Linked DNA regions of Homo sapiens: region 2 is linked to region 1. The links come from fine-mapping of genetic effects on gene expression. Tissue or cell type: esophagus muscle. Region 1 holds a variant in brackets; the other region holds the start of a gene. All regions are shown on one strand. Distances are between the middles of the regions.

Region 1 (8,349 bases):
TTTCATAGGATGTGACAACCATGCTGACATTTCAAAGCTTGGGTTTTAGAATTCTCTAGTCACTAACAGATCACACTTTCCATTGCATATGTTATTATTTTTACTCTCACTGGAATGTGTTATTATATAGTTTTCATTTGGGTTAATTATAAGAAGATGAAATATGCTGTGAAGTTTTATGAACAAAACAACTGCCCCCCACCACACTGTCTGGCTGCATCCTGAGGGATGTTTTATGGGAGAACTGTTGCCTTGCATGACACCAGTCAGTGTAGCTTAAAGATAATCCCGAATTTCTACACTTTGCTGGTGAGCCTGTGTTAAAGTTCTCAGGTCTGATTTTATCTCATACCTTTTTGAACATCTTACATTTTCAGACTTCCCTACCTCTTGGGATTTGTGAGGATTGAAGTTCGCTTTCTACTTTTTGAAGAAATATTTCATTTGGCTAAAATTAAAATTCAAAAGTCCAGGGCACCCTCTGGTTTTTGTTCTGGGAGTGGACGAGCAATTCCACTCGGATTCCCTAAACATCACAATTCTCATGGAACAGGGATCATGAAGCATTTAGAAAGCTGTGTAAAGAATCAAAAGACGGAGGTGATGTGGCCTGGCAATGACCGATGACTTTGATGACTTACTGTTTCAGGGCCTCGATTCTGTCCTCCTCGTCCTGCATCTCCAGAGCACCCATCCACTCCTCAAAGAGGTCGCTTGAAAGTAGCTTCCGGGGGATACTTCTGAGGAAGTCCTGGGGGATGAGAGTGGGCTGTTGGCCTATTGGTACTGTATGATGTCCCATGTCCTTGTTTTCACCCGGTTTTCGTTCCATCGCAGGGTGCTCTATGCTTAGCCCATCATAGATTGTGGCCCTTCATTCCTGCATTTGATGAATCCAGGGAACCCTCTCTCCAACACCCTTGGCCTCTCTGCAACTTTCTAACATCAGGCAGAGTCAGAGGCACCATCCCCAGGTGGGTGTGTTCTGAGGGGCCACTGGATTTTGACGTATGGATTCTGCCACGGAACAATCAAATTGCCCGTACTTGGCAAAGTTTTGGGAGAGCAGAATGCATCACTTTCTGTTGGAATCTGAGGTCACAGAAACAGAGGTGCTTACTAAATAAATAAATAAAGGGCTTAATGAAAAAAATTAAACTCCAAGATCAGTGTACCTTGCTGTGTGGGGAGAAGAGCCTATTTCTTGCATCCTGAGAATGAGTGTGTCAGGGCCCCTTGGCAGGTTATTTGGCGCAAGTGTGTTGAACTCACCTTAAAGACCACAGCGAGGAGGTGCACGGGGAGCCTCTCCAGATCCACCGCATCCCCAGAGTTGAGCTCCTCCTTCAGCTCCTTACGGGCTTTCTCGTTGGCTGCTCTCCTGAATATCCCTTCCGTTGAAGGGCCTTTAAGGCATAGAATAGTGAGAATGTCCTAAAGGAAACAGCAATAGGAACAGGAAAGGGTTACCCTTCTTCTTTAGTATACTGAGATAGTCTTAACAGGAATATTGATGTCAGATTTTGCTTTCAGTCCAGTTGCTGTCAATGGCCTTCCTCAACCCTGCTATTTTTCTAAGAGGAGGCAAATTGTGAAAGCTCTAATTTTGCACTTTCTAAAATCACTTTGGAGCTCTCTCCTTTCAAATACTTCCATATGAACATTGGATTTCAGATCACAAAGTCTATATTCTGTTTCCCCCTTTTGACTTTTCAGAAGCTACAAATCTTCAGCATTCTCCACTCTGTGAAGTCAGAGGAATGGCGGGACCATAGCTCTGAGCTCATTGGCAAATACAACTAATTTCAATTTCTGGAATGGAAGCAGTCAGATATTCTTCTGACTGCACGCGTATGTGGGAGTGCCATGTTGAAGAGTGGAAAATATGGAAGATCAGTCCCTACAAACTTAATAGGAGAATGACATTCAGATTTCCCGAGTATTTTGCATGTCCAACTGAAAACTGAAGTAGGTTTATGAGAGAATGCACGCCTACCTGGATGGGTCTGGGGAGTGTGTCACTGTCACCGCAGATAATTGACAAGGGCTGATCAAATAGCGATGCTTTCAAGTCTGTCTCCAAAGCCCCAGAAAAATCTGATGCAGGGGAGAGCCTTCTCATGAGAAAGGGCCAGGACAGCACCTTCTTTCTCTTCTTAACTTCTACAGCCAAGAAAACAAGGCAACGAGAAAAATTAGACTACAGTGTTAAGAAGCAAAGATCCAGGTAAGAAAATGGGTATCGTTGGCCGCATAATGTGGTCAATAGTATGCGATGTGAGAAAAATAATTTTGAAAACTTGAGAAAGCAAAGGGCGTGAATCTTAATCTAGAAAAACCAACCGATAAACAACCACACTGTTACCAGGGCAACCAGTTCCCTAAACAGCAACACCAGAGTTCCTCAAGGCCTCCACCTTTCCTGTTTTCACTCTTTCCAGCTGTTTGCTACAGAAAATTAGCAAAACCTAACTGTGCTGATCATAAACAACCATCTTAACCTACTGGCCTGAATAACTATAGAGGAAATTTCTGATATGAAATAGATTATTTTGATTTCCTCCTTTAACTGGCGAAGAAAACGAAACTTAAAAGGTGAGGAAGTGACTTGCTGAATATCTTTTCGAAGGCACATAGCAGGGCTGGCTCCAACCCTTTGCAGCCACGCAGGCACTAAACAGCCACTAGAGGGAGCTAACACCATTTTTCCTTCCAGGTGACTGGTCACCTTGGGTTTTCCAGGTTGCTGCTTTAGGACAGAGGCAAATACGAATCGCTGCGGGAAGCCTTGAACCTAGATCTGGCAACTGGGAATTATCAGCAAAACGTTATCAAGATATTCTGTCCTTCTGAAATCCACAAGATGTGTGTGCAATGGATATTGCAATCTCAAACATTTCCTTCTTTCTTTTCTTTTCCTTCCTTCCTTCCTTCTCCTTTCTTACTAATTATAAAGGCTATATTTTCTAAATGCATTGGCATCTGTTTCTATACATTTCAGATTGGCAAGTGGAAGCATGATGAGAAAGAAGTGGCCTGTCTTTATGGTTCAGGAGAACTGGGTCAGGGTTACGCTATAATGAAATGCATTATGAAAAAAGTTGAGAGTGAATGGTGGGTCCTTTGGGATTTGAGATCAGCAACAGTTGCTTCATAGGCTCTTGGATGCATTCTCCATAAGAGAAGGAAGAAAATGGAAAAGACACTGTGTGTTTTTCAAATGTGTGCATGCTAATTGTCGAAACATACATGGCCAGGAGATTGAACCGCATTAAAAACGCTTGGCAGAACTGGGGATTCTCTATGGAGAGGCTCTTTCCTTTCCCAGCACTCCCTGCTCTAGTGAGTTGGAGCATACCTGCCATTTAAGGGTTAATGTTCTGCGGTCTTTAACAGAACAACTTATACAAAAAAATTCCTAGTAGAGTAAAAGCGCTGTGGTTTTGCAAACCAAGAGCACTGGTTGTTAGCACTTACATAAAAGATCGGTATGTTTTTAAAACTCACCAATGAGCTGGCAAATACTGTCTTCACTCTCACATGATGCCAACAGGGGATGTTCCTTGATATCACCCTAAAAACATTTTTATTTCAGTTAAATATAGTGACTGAAGAAACCTATCGAGTCTTTCCCCACAAAACACACATACAGCATTTTATTCATATTAAAAATGAAGTCAGTAGAGTGCATTGATGTTTTTTCTAGCTTCTAGAAGCAATATTAAGGTCTTGATTGTCATCATATAAGATCCTAATTAATGTGCTTAATTTACTACATGTGTGATGTTAGTTTACTACTCTTATAATTACTATTCAACCCAAATAATATTCAATTAAAACAAAGTTTTCCACCTTCTCACAGTACAGATAAAAAGTCTTAAAAATTGCTTTCTTACCTCTGATTGACATTCGATTAGTGTCTCCATATTATTGGCGTTTAGTGTTTTTGACTAAAAGAGAAAAAATAAAATTAGGTAAATATCTTTTGGCCCTTGCCTGTAGGAAACGTGAATGAATGAATGTGAGAGGGGCACTCACAGCATTGTGGCTGCTTCTCAGCTTCATCAGTATTGCGGCTGACTGTCCAGGGGTGGATTTCACTCCCGTGTGGCTGTGCCTCTGTCTACAACGAATCACATGGAAAGGAGTTAGGAGGGACTCACACAGTAGGCCACTTTCAGCGCCACTTTGCCAAAGCACAGAGTTTGAAACTATTTATTTATTTTTCTCTTTTGCTATTTTTTCACTTGCCTTTACTTTGGAAAAAACTATTACATAGACAAGTTTTCATTTAAAATCAGTTCTGTTACCAGATGTTGTATGTTGTTAAGAGCAGCATCTGAACACAATTATTTCTAAATTATTTAAGTCAACTATCTTTACCACTCTAAACGTTGTTACCAATTTATTCCGTTCCATCAAGAGATAATCTGGATATCAATTACGTTAACATTTTAAATTAACATGAACATTAACTTTTTTGGTGGAGTGCTGACTATATGCCAGCTGT[C/T]GTAGTAGGTGCTTTGCATGGATTTTCTCATCTAATCCAAAAAGGAAAAAAAAAAAAACATATCCCTAGGATGCTAAAATAGTAAACATGAAACAAAGATAACATTTACAGAACTCCTACACCAAAAAGGTGCAGCCTTCACGTTGAAGCAAAGCTTTGTCCTGAGACTTTATAAAGTGAGAGCATATTCCACGGGATAGCTGTTTTCTGTTGCCTGTGATCTGAGTGACCTGTGACTTGCGAGGCAGCTTGTAATTTCTAGGCATGTTAATATATAGTGTACTTACCCTTGGAGGGTCTCTAGCCAGAGTTCTTTTACATCCGGTGAGCTGTAAAGAATGGGAGAAACAGCATAACTCTCTGCTCCTTCTAGTCCACTGGGAGAGAGAGAGACCGAGCCGGTCTCCCTTCACATGCTCTGCATTATAAGCGAAGGGGCGGGCAGGTGGAAATTCAGAATATTACAGAGACCGGAAAGAACATCATGGGCTGTCACACGGACGGAGCCAGCCAGACACTGGAGAGCTCTCGCTTCCTCATTCCTTTTAGGGCAGCTATGTCTTTTTTTTTTTTTTTTTTTTTTTTTTTTTTTGTGTCTTCCACTTCAAAGTAAAAAATCTGTAAACTACTAGGAGTGGAAAACATGACATTCAGCCCATAGGTGAAGGCTCTGATTAATGTCATAGGTGGGATGTGTGAACAAGAAATTGTGTTATTCTGTGCATAAACATCACTTTATTTTCTAAAGTGGTAATTTCAAGTGCCTCTTTTTGCATCCTGTTTGGGTGCTCTTTCCCCTCCCACGTGCCATCTGCTCTGTCCACCAGCACCACACGTTGATTAGCACCCCTGGATGTGGGACACTGTTACAGAACCAGAAAGAAACCCAAGACAGTCCCTTCCTTGAGGAACAATCACCGTCCAAAGCCAGGTTAGTTTCCTTTGGAAGTAGAAAGAAAACTCCCTCGAGTCAGTTGTCAATATAGTAACCCCCTCCTCCTTTCTGTAACTCCTGGTCAAAAGTATTGATACTTAATTTACAGTCAGAGCAGCTGTCGTTCTGACACGGAAGGAAAACAAACAAAAAAATTCCTTTGATCAGACCAACTTAAAGTAGGAAAGAGATGGTGAATTTCATTTGTGGATCACTCTTCTGCATAAGAGAATTTCTGATCTTTTCTGTAGATCAAGGGCTATATATGAAACCACTCAAATGCCTCGACACGAGAATGGATGCATAAATTGTGATCCATTCACATAGGGAATGAATGTTGTATAGCACTGATAATGAACAGCCTATGACTATAGCCAACAATATGGTTGGATCTCATAATATGACGCTGAGCAAAAGAAGCCAGACGTGAAAGTGTATATCCTGCCGGCTCCCATTAATGCAAAGCACAAAATTAGCAAAAGTCGTCTGTGCTGTTGGAAGCAAGAGTAGCAGTTTCCCAGAGGGGATGGTAATGACTTCCAGGGGCCAGCGGGGGGCTTGGTGATGGTCCATTCTTGATCTGGGTGGTGCTAGGCTTATGTGCACACTTCCCTATTTATGTAATTTTTCAATAAAAAGTTTTAAAATAACTTGGCTTCATTTATCATCAGCATCTTTAATTTTAAGACTTTTCCGCATTGTCAGTTCTTTTGTCATTTTACTGAAAGGAGGTGATTATGGGGCAGACTTTGGGAAACCGAAGCACAGAGAGGTCGAAATTTGCTCTGTAACTTAGCGGCTCGGTGGGGACCTAGGGACAGATCCTGGTTTTCAGGCTTCCAGCTGGGGGCTCCCTCTCTGAAAGCCACCACAGTGCCAGAGTTCACCCAGTGTTCCCAGGGCAGCTGTAGAGGCCACCACTCTTTCAGCATCCCTCTCCTGCCTTTATAAACCTCCAAAGTGAACTCACTGATTTTTTTAATTGAAAAAGGGCATTTACGCTGTGCCCAGCCTAGTGCTAGGCATATAGTAGGTACTAAATAACTAATTTCTGAATATATACATTTCCTTATAAAATAGCCAAAATAGAATATTACTATAATGTTCTATATATCATAGAATATATATGTGATGTATATTCATTGCTAGTATGTATTTTCTAAACTTTTTTTTTTCCCGACAAACGGACTTTTCAAATTTTTGTAAGAAACTTAATGTACTTACTGTTCTTTCTTTTTTTTTTTTTTTGAGATGGAGTTTCGCTCTTGTCACCCAGGCTGGAGTGCAATGGCGTGATCTCGGCTCACTGCAACCTCTGCCTCCTGGGTTCAAGTGATTCTCCTGTCTCAACCTCCTGAGTAGTTGGAATTACAGGCACGCGCCACCATACCTGGCTAATTTTTGTATTTTTAGTAGAGATGGGGTTTCGCCATGTTGGCCAGGCTGGTCTGGAAATCCTGACCTCAGGTGATCCACCCATCTTGGCCTCCCAAAGTGCTGGGATTACAGATGTGAGCCACTGTGCCCAGCCTCAGCATCTTTTAAAAATACATAACATGAATGGTTTGATGACCTGCAGAAATGGTTACATCGACGGACTTTTCTTTTTCTTCTGGGACCTACCATGCCTAGTTAAGCACCCAGGGAACTATCTAGGATGAAAAGTTAGTAGCAAATACGGCAACAGAATTAGGGCCCCTCCATTTTTTGAAACAGAAATATGTTTTGGCTCTTCTTATTGACACAACTGATGGTGGGAAAGCCCAGAGGGAGGTGCCATCCTTTGGGGTCCCTGGGAGATTTTGACAGTCAACATCTAATGAATAGGTACATTTTGTGACTGAAGGAAAGCCACCATTGTTGGCTGGTGCTGCTGGGGGACTGAGGAGACGTTCTCCTTTATGACTGTGGCCCCGCCTGCATATGGCGCCTACTGTGGAAAGAGAAAGAGTTGTGAAGGGCAGGTGCTGCACCCTCAACTCTGAAAATCTCACAGTAATTTTGATCGCAGTTTTCCGAGCACTAGGAGAAACATTTATAAATAAAGTGTAAAATTTGGAAGCAGTCATGCCAAAAGTTAGAAAAAAAGATGGAAATGTCAGATTCACTTTTTCCATATTCTTGTCTCCCACACATCTCTTTGAAAAGCAAGCTCTCATCGTCCTGCATAGTAAGAGTCTTCAGAACGTGGAAAGGAACTTCAGTGGCTTTTGCTGGGTTGGGCTGAAGGAAACCCCGGTGAAACCCACACCTGTAAAGATGCTTCTCACAGTGGGACTTTTATCGCTTGGGTCCTGGTCACAATCAATTTTTCTGCAAATAATTGGCTTTGCTTTTCTTGTGGTGAGTCTCTAAGGACAGTGAGTTCCGTTCTGGGGACTGTGAGTTCTATGCTGTGTACATGTGTGCTTTGGAGGGTGACTGGAAGCACCATCGTTCCTTCCCATACTTTCAGGCTCAGTTACCGCTTCAGTCTGGACTGTTGTGAACGAGAATATGGAAGTCATTTTCCCCACATTGTTTACCCAGCTTGCCTGGGAAACACCAACTGGAGGATTAGAGTCCGGCTCTTCAGTTTGAACTCACTTTCCCTTTCTCTTCCTGGGACCACCCAGTGATTCAGAGCCCTGCATTCTGTAATGAGATTAATGTCAACAGTTTCCTGCATTGAAGATTATTTTCCCAAAGAGTTCACGATTTCCTTCAGGACTTCTCCATCACCCCAGTGTCTGGCTACCTAATGACTGATTAACAGGTTGATTTTCTAGAAAACTCAAATTACAATTTCTTTTTTTTAAAAAAGGGCAATCCAGCCTTTTCTCTGATTATCCGTCCTCCCCATCTCCCACTTGTCCTATGTTTTAGCCACACAGGCTGTTGTCATCCCCTAAAAGTGTGCTTCTGA
Region 2 (8,000 bases), 45 kb before region 1:
TATGACTCAGACTCCTGTGCCTTCTTCTTTCACTTTATTTTATTTTTATTTTTTTTGAGACAGAGTCTCACTCTGTCACCCAGGCTGGACTGCAGAGGTGCAATCTTGGCTCACTGCAAGCTCCGCCTCCTGGGTTCATGCCATTCTCCTGCCTCAGCCTCCCGAGTAGCTGGGACTACAGGCGCCCGCCACCACGCCCGGCTCATTTTTTTTTGTATTTTTTTAGTAGAGACGGGGTTTCACCGTGTTAGCCAGGATGGTCTGGATCTCCTGACCTCGTGATCCGCCCACCTTAGCCTCCCAAAGTACCGGGATTACAGGCGTGAGCCACCGTGCCCATCCTTCTTCTTTTACTTTTAAGGCCCCACTGTGATTCTACTGGGCCCACCTGGATAAGCCAGGCTAATTTCCCATCTCAAGATCTCCCATCTCAAGATCCTTAATGTAATCACATCTCAAAGTCCCTTTTACCACATAACATGTTCACAGGTTCTGGGGACTAGGAAGAGGACATCTTTGGGGAATCATTATTCTGCCCTCTACGGTGATTTTAAACCTTATTTGACCTGAGTAAAAATAAAAATAAAAAAAAGGTATGTTCTAAGGTTTTAATTCATTTGCATTAAAAATGTTATTTTATTGGAAGGGTTATATATCCTTTACCAAAGGATTTGTAAAATGAGGGAATGTCATTATCACAATTGTCTTTTCACACATGCCTAAAGGTGAATTTAATGGCATTTATGATCACCCAACTACCAAGAAATACATAAAAGATGTATTACATTCTCTTGTTTGTAAATGAGAAGACTAGTATTCAAATGTTCTCTTTCAGCTTTATAATCCTATGAAAAGGTGGAAGTTCTTGATTCACATTAGACTTGTGTTAAATTTCTAGACCCTTTCAAAGGAAAAATCAGATACTCCCATTTCTGTATTTGTGTAACTGACTTCTCATACCTAAGTAAAACTTCACAGCTTTCCAATTAAGTTTCATTTTTTGGTTTCAGCCCAGTTATATATACCCAATCAAGATAATTTAGAACCTTGACTCCCTTCAGTCATAAGTTAGTTATCCATTCCAGCCATGTGTCATCTGAAAAACTGAAGATTTATCCAGTTCAACATAAAATTTTGAACATGAAAGAACTAAACGACATTCTAGGATAGAGACAGATTGACACAAAAGCATACTCTTTTTGGATATGGTCATTTAGTTACTCACCAGCAAGTACTAAAAGTACTGCTGTGGTCTGGATATGGTTTGTCGTCTCCACTAAAACTCACATGGAAATTTAATTTCCAATATGGCAGTGTTGGGAAGTGGGGCCTAGTGGGAGGTGTTTGGAACATGGGTGGATCCCTCATGAATGGCTTGGCACCAGTTCTCGCAGTAGTGAGGGAACTCTTACTCTCAAGAGACTGGATTAAGTTCTCACAGGACTAGTTCCAGAGACAGCAAGTTGCTACAAAATGAGGTACTTCCTCCTGTTTGGCCACTTCCCACGGATCTGCTTCCCCTTTGACCTTCTCCATCATGTTATGAAACAACAAGAAAAGCCCTCACTAGAAGGCAAGCAGATGCCAGCACCATGCTCTTGTACTTCTCAGTCTGCAGAGCTGTGAGCTAAATAGATCTCTTTATAGACTATCCAGTTTCAGATACTCTGTTAGAGCAACATAAGATGGATTAAGACAAGTACTCTCCTGAACACTTTTTTTTTTTTTTTTTTGAGACAGAGTTTCGCTTTGTCGCCCAGGCTGGAGTGCAGTGGCGTGATCTTGGCTCACTGCAACCTCCGCCTTCTGGGTTTAAGTGATCCTCCTGCGTCAGCCTCCCAAGTACCTGGGATTACAGGTACATGCCACCATGCCCGGCTACTCTCCTGAACACTTAAAAAATATTTTATTCATAAGGATATCAGAGGAGAATATTATCCTTATCCATAAGCAAATTATGGATAAAATATCAGTATTTTATCCATTAGGATATCAATGATTATGATTTGTAAGATAATACTTCCTCAAAATTGAGATTTTTCTGTCTTGTGCATTACTCAGATATACTAATAAACTAATCAATAGATTACTTCAATATACTAATCAACTATCAAAAAAGTTGTTCCTAATGAACCACCATTGATTCTTGTTTCTAATCTGTTGGTCTGATTGGATAGTAATGATTTGTAAGCAACCACTTAAAGGCACCAGAAAGTGTTTTTGGAAGGATTAGAAAATTTTAAAATTGAATCCTTTTCTAATATAAATGATCACTCTTCAAATTTAAATTTTCTATTTTAGTTTTCTTACAGTGATAGACATCTCTTATAGAAAAAGAATTTGTTAGAACAAGATAATTATGAATTTAGAAAGAGCGTTTGAAATAAGCATCAATAATTACATTGTTGATGTTCAATCATCAGTTTGACAATTCGTATTAAGTGCTTACTATGTACCAGGCATTGTACTAGGTGAACAAAAGATGCAAAAGTTCCTGCATCCATGGAGCTTGCATTCCTATAAAGTTCTGCTGAATTCAACATTTGAGGCTTATGGAAAGAACTTTAGAGAACCGTTTAACTTTAAGAGAACTTTAAGAGTTTATGTTTTTTTTGCTGGGTGTGGTGGCTCAGGCCTGTAATCCCAGCATTTTGGGAGGCCGAGGCGGGCGGATCATGAGGTCAGGAGATCGAGAGTATCCTGGCTAACATGGTGAAACCCCGTCTCTACTAAAAAAATACAAAAAAAAAAAAAAAAAAAAAAAGAGCCGGGCGTGGTGGCGGGCGCCTGTAGTCCCAGCTACTTGGGAGGCTGAGGCAGGAGAATGGCGTGAACCCGGGAGGTGGAGGTTGCAGTGAGCCGAGATTGTGCCACTGCACTCCAGCCTGGGCGACAGAGCGAGACTCCGTCTCAAAAAAAAAAAAAGAAAAAAAAAAAGGCTTATGTTTTGTTTTTTTTCTTTCCTATGTATGTTTGAATATTTGCAACTGTTCATGGATGTAAAAACACAAACTGCCGTCCGGGCGCGGTGGCTCACGCTTGTAATCCCAGCACTTTGGGAGGCCGAGGCGGGCGGATCACTTGAGGCCAAGAGTTTGAGACCAGCCTGGCCAACGTGGCAAAACCCTGTCTCTACTAAAAATACAAAGATTAGCCGGGGGTGGTGGAGGGCGCCTCTAGTCCCAGCTACTTGGGAGGCTGAGGCAGGAGAATCGTTTGATCGGGGAGGAGTGGGGGAGGGGGGCGGAGGTTGCAGTGAGCGGAGATCGCGTCATTGCAGTCCAGCCTGGGCGACAAGAGCGAAACTCCGTCTCAAAACAACAACAGCAACCACCACCACCACCACCACCACCACCACAAAAAACCAATCTGTGGTCCTGCATGGAAGAATAATCTTACTCCTGCTCAAAGCCTGCCGAAGAGATTTACTCGGCTCCCATTTTGGATATGCTACTGTTGGATATCTTTGCACCGCGGTCTCCTCATCTGCATAATGGAGTTATAAAATCAACTTCACAGCACTGTGGATTAACTAAGAAAACGTATTTGAATGCCCCCCGTAAGGTGCTCAGCACGTAGTTGGCCCTCAATACACACTGGTACAATTCAAACTTTGTGAAATGAGCCAATTCGTGTACATGTTAAGGACCACGGCAGCAACTCATATCACTAAAAGTTAACTGATGCCCAACCCATGCCCCTTCCTGCTTCACTCCTCCACACCACGGGAGATTCCTTAGGGCAGAACTTTTATTTCGGCAGAGTGCAGCCAAGGGAAGACAGCATAAGCAGCTTTTTTGCCAGGGCGAAGGGGCCAGACCCCGGCCTGGGGATGGGGTGCAAGTATGGACCACACAGGGGCTGGCTTGGTCACTCACGGCTGCGTCAGGCTGTCCCGGTAACGGCTGCGCTGGCAGGGCAGTGCTCGGGGCCGGCTGGTGTAGGTGTAGGTGCTCGGGGCCCGAGAGGTGCGATCAGTCAGCGCTGAGGCCATGTCCGGGGGCTGACTGCCTCGCTTTCGGTGGAGCTTGGCTTTGAAGCAGGTGGGCGCTAAGGTGTTGTGGGACCCGGAGAGATGTAAGTAGTGCCAAGGGCAAGGATTCCGCGACGCGAGGAGAGGCGACAACAAGGGAGGCGGGCGGGACGGGAGGTTACCAGCGCAGGAGGTGGGAGCTATACTGGGCTCGCTCCCAGCACCACAGAGACCAGCTGCGGGGGCCGCATCGGTTGCCCAGCAACCCAGGGTTCTGTCTGGGGGCGGGAACTCCGGGCAGTTCCGGTCCCCAGGTTTCCCGGGAAGGACTGCGGCACAAGGGACTTCCGGCTCTTGACTCCGCCCAGCCGCGCCACCCAGGTAGGTGCGCCTGCGCTTTGCGAGGTTCCTGGCTAGGGAGGCGGCCTTGGCTGGCTTGACCGTCATCCTTGAGGCCTGCGGGGCAACGGTGGCTGTCCTTGGCCCGGCTTTGGAATGTGGCTTTGCAGGGCTGGTGTTGGCGCCATTCTCGCAGGCCCACGTGCTCCTGCTCTTCCAGGGTGTCCTCGGCTGTTTCTCCTGCCGCGGCGCAGCAGCGCTCCCAGGCTGCCCCCGCGATAACACGCCCCTGGCAGCCAGGCTCCCAGCTCTGTTACGTGCCCGGGCGGGGAAGAGCTTCCTGGTGTCTCCCGGCTCCTGCCCTTCTCCCGCCCCAGGGGCGGGCTGCCGCCGCCCTCTGCAGCTGAGTCAGTGCAGTTCCTCACCTACCTTCTCTGCTCACCGCTGTGTGCTAGCAATCGGAGGACCCTTGGCACACGGAGCGACAGGGGCCTCCCCCACAGACACCTCATTTTGGGAAAGAAGTGAGCAATTTATTGAGTCTTAAAAAATACAAAGGCATAGTTCCCCTTAATCTATCAGGCTTCCAGCTCTAAAGAATGTCTCTAGTATTGCGGGGTGGGGCTGCGCTTAAAAACGCAGACGCTTTGGTTTTAGTACCAGCAACGTTAAAAATCTTCTATCTTGTATGAGTGAATGTGTATCCCTTGTGATCAGTTATTTGCATTTGCAGTTACACCTTCATTCAGCTAATTGCTGTCTTGATTTGAATCCAGGTTCTAGAATGTACTAGCTCCGAAACCTCAGGCAAGTTAAATGTTTTTGTGCTTCATTTTCCTAATCCACAAAGTGGCAATAGAAGAATTTATCTCTTTAGGTTTTGTCTTGAGGATTAAAACCGTTAATACTTAGAGCTGTGCCTGGTAAATGGCAAGCCTTTATATTAAGATCTGGACCGTTCTGTGCTTTGAAGTGTATGACCTAAAGCAGATGTAGGCATTCTATAAGTAACACTAGCATAAAGGTGTATGGTAAATTCTAGAGGTGAAAACACTCCCAACATATTTTAGGTCTGATCATTTAATTTTGAGGTAATTTCTGAAAGGGCTAGAGGAGAAAGTGACATTTAAGTTGTGTTTGATAAATGATAGTATTTTAACTGGCCAGCCTCTTGGGGGAAGTGCATTCGGAATGGCTTGATCAAAGGCTCAAGAAGCCCAAGGTGCATTTGGAAAACTGTAAGCAAGGTTTGTGTAGATGAGTTGTAGAAATATATATAGACAGGCTGACACCACATCGTGGAAACAGTAAACACTAGCATATTAATTAGAATATTTTTTCCCTCAAGTAACAAAAAACCAATTCCAAGTGGCTGAAATAATAAGGAATTCATTATTTTACACTCCCCAGGTTGGTTAACCTGGAGGGTAACTTGGGGGCTCAGCACATTATCAACAACACGTTTTTTCCCCTACCTTTCCACTCTGTCACCTGGGTTGTTGGCTTCAACAAAGTAGTAATAGAAGTATCTGCTCTTTTGTCTTTATTGGAAGAGCAAAACCCCCTCGTAAACTCCCAACTGACCAGAATTACATCATATTGATTTAAGCTTAGGATCTATATAAGACCACCATATTTGGATTAGACCAGGTAACCGGTCTTTCTAGGCCTCCAAGAAACACTTGGCCAGGGAGGAGGAGAACAAATTCTGTTAGGAGGATGTTGGGGCAGAATTGAGTGGGTATTAAGTGGGTAAACAATAGTGCTATACCAGCCACAGTGGGCTTTATAAAGAAATTGATAGCCACTATAGGTTCTTGTACAAGTTTCTTTCTTTTTTTTTTTTTTTAGATGGAGTCTCGCTCTGTGGCCAGGCTGGAGTGCAGTGGCGCGATCTTGGCTCACTGCAACCTCCGCCTCCCCGGTTCAAGTGGTTCTCCTGCCTCAGCCTCCTGAGTAGCTGGGACTACAGGCGTGTGCCACCCCGTCCAGCTAATTTCTGTATTTTTAGTAGAGGCGGGGTTTCACCATGTTGGCCAGGATGGTCTTGTTCTCTTGACCTGGTGATCCGCCCTCCTCAGCCTCCCAAAGTGTTGGGATTACAGGCGTGAGCCACTGTGCCTGGCCTGTACAAGTTTTTATCCACAGCCTGTTTCTCTTCTTGTACTTTCTCCCAGGGCAGTCCCATTTCACGTCTGTAATTTCTAGTACCACCTATATACTCAGGGTAGCAAAGGATGTATCTCTAACCTAGACTTCTCCCTCAGGTGACAGTCCTGGATATCTGACTATTTTGTGGACAACTCTTGGATGATCTGAAACTGAAAGATTCATTCCACAAATAGTTATGTGTATCTAGTATGTGCCAAGCATTGTTGTTTTCTTGTCCCTCGTCCCCACTCCCCTGGTGTTAGTGGGGATATAGCAGTGAAAAACAAAAACAAACAACAGATTAAAAGTCCTGCCTTGACAGAATTTATATTCTAGTGGAGGAGTCATACAAACAAGAAAAGTGAGTACATTATGGGTGTTACATAATTATAATAGCTAATTCGAAATAAAGCAGGAAATAAGGCTAGGTGCTAGGGGCATGGGAGACCTATCAATTTTATAGTGGTCAGAGAAGGCTTCATTGAGAAGGTGACATTTGAGTAAAGACTTGAAGGAGGTGAAGAAATGAAACTTGAGACTTGTGACTAATTGTCACAGCATTCCAGGTCAAGGAAGCAGCCAATTCCTCGTTCTAAGGCAGGAAGTCGTGTTGGGGATGGCAGTAAGAGTGAGTGGAGCAGAGTGAGCACAAGGAGGAGCATTCGGAGATGAAGTCAGAGGCTGGGCCGTGCGCCCTGTTGTAGGTCAGTGAAAGGACTTTAGGTTTTACTCTAGGGTTAAAAGTCCCTAAAGGGTTTTGAGTAGAAGCTTGACATAGTTTGATTAAAAAAATTTGTTTTTTCTAGTTGTTTGGTTGAGAATAGACTGAAGTGGGGCAAAGGCAGAAGCAGAGAGACCAGATAGGAAGCTGCTCCCAATAAGGCTGGTGAGAGGGTGGCTTGGATCTGGTGTAGGTGTGGTGCTCGGGCCCGAGAGATGCAGTGAGTCAGTGCCGAGGCCATGTCGGGGGACAGACTGCCTTGCTTTCAGTGGAGCTTGGTTCTGGATCTGGGACAAAAGTGGTGGGAAGATCCCAGCTCAATTTTGAAGGTAGAACAGATTGGACGTGACGTGGTGCACGAGAGAAAGAAAGGCAAAAGAGATGAACCTAAGGTTTCTGATTAAATGTTAGACATTGTGTAGGAAAAAAATCACATAGAGGCTCTGGCAAAAAAAAAAAAACTAAATAAATAAATAAAAAATAAATAAATAAATTGCATAGAGACTGTGGCTGATGTTGTGTTTCTCCAGAAAGGATTTAATTTTATTCTGGCAAGCAATTAGAGTAGGAACGGATGACTTTTTTTTTTTTTTTTTTTGAGGCGGAGTTTTGCTCTTGTTGCCCAGGCTGGAGTACAATGGCACTGTCTTGGCTCACTGTGGCCTCCACCTCCCGGGTTCAAGCAATTCTCCTGTCTCACCTCCCAGGTAGCTGGGATTACAGGTGTGCACCACCATGCCCGGCCAATTTTGTATTTTTTTAGTAGAGACTGGGTTTCACCATGTTGATCAGGCTGGTCTCGAACTCCTGACCTCA

Evidence for each region. PIP is the estimated chance that this variant, and not a neighbour inherited with it, causes the effect.
Region 2: it holds the start of TAGAP-AS1, and the variant in region 1 is fine-mapped to the expression of TAGAP-AS1 in esophagus muscle (GTEx, PIP 0.98). The same link has a PIP of 0.9 or more in tibial nerve.

What each region holds. Positions count from the first base shown.
Region 1 is chr6:159,040,082-159,048,430 of GRCh38, forward strand. It overlaps TAGAP (T cell activation RhoGTPase activating protein), which reads right to left and starts at 4,910. Exons shown (of 10, transcript NM_054114.5): 1 at 4,798-4,910; 2 at 4,039-4,123; 3 at 3,897-3,950; 4 at 3,508-3,574; 5 at 1,997-2,163; 6 at 1,273-1,434; 7 at 642-751. The coding sequence starts at 4,065. TAGAP-AS1 (TAGAP antisense RNA 1) reads left to right here. Exons shown (of 5, transcript NR_183546.1): 4 at 838-974; 5 at 1,717-2,975. RefSeq lists enhancers at 571-1,770, 2,344-2,613. The variant C/T (reference allele first, on the strand shown) is at 4,511.
Region 2 is chr6:158,995,557-159,003,556 of GRCh38, forward strand. TAGAP-AS1 (TAGAP antisense RNA 1) reads left to right here and starts at 4,317. Exons shown (of 5, transcript NR_183546.1): 1 at 4,317-4,836. It overlaps RSPH3 (radial spoke head 3), which reads right to left and starts at 4,646. Exons shown (of 8, transcript NM_031924.8): 1 at 3,879-4,646. The coding sequence starts at 3,994. RefSeq lists enhancers at 3,389-4,360, 3,845-3,994, 4,015-4,064, 4,095-4,164, 4,335-4,494 and 2 more.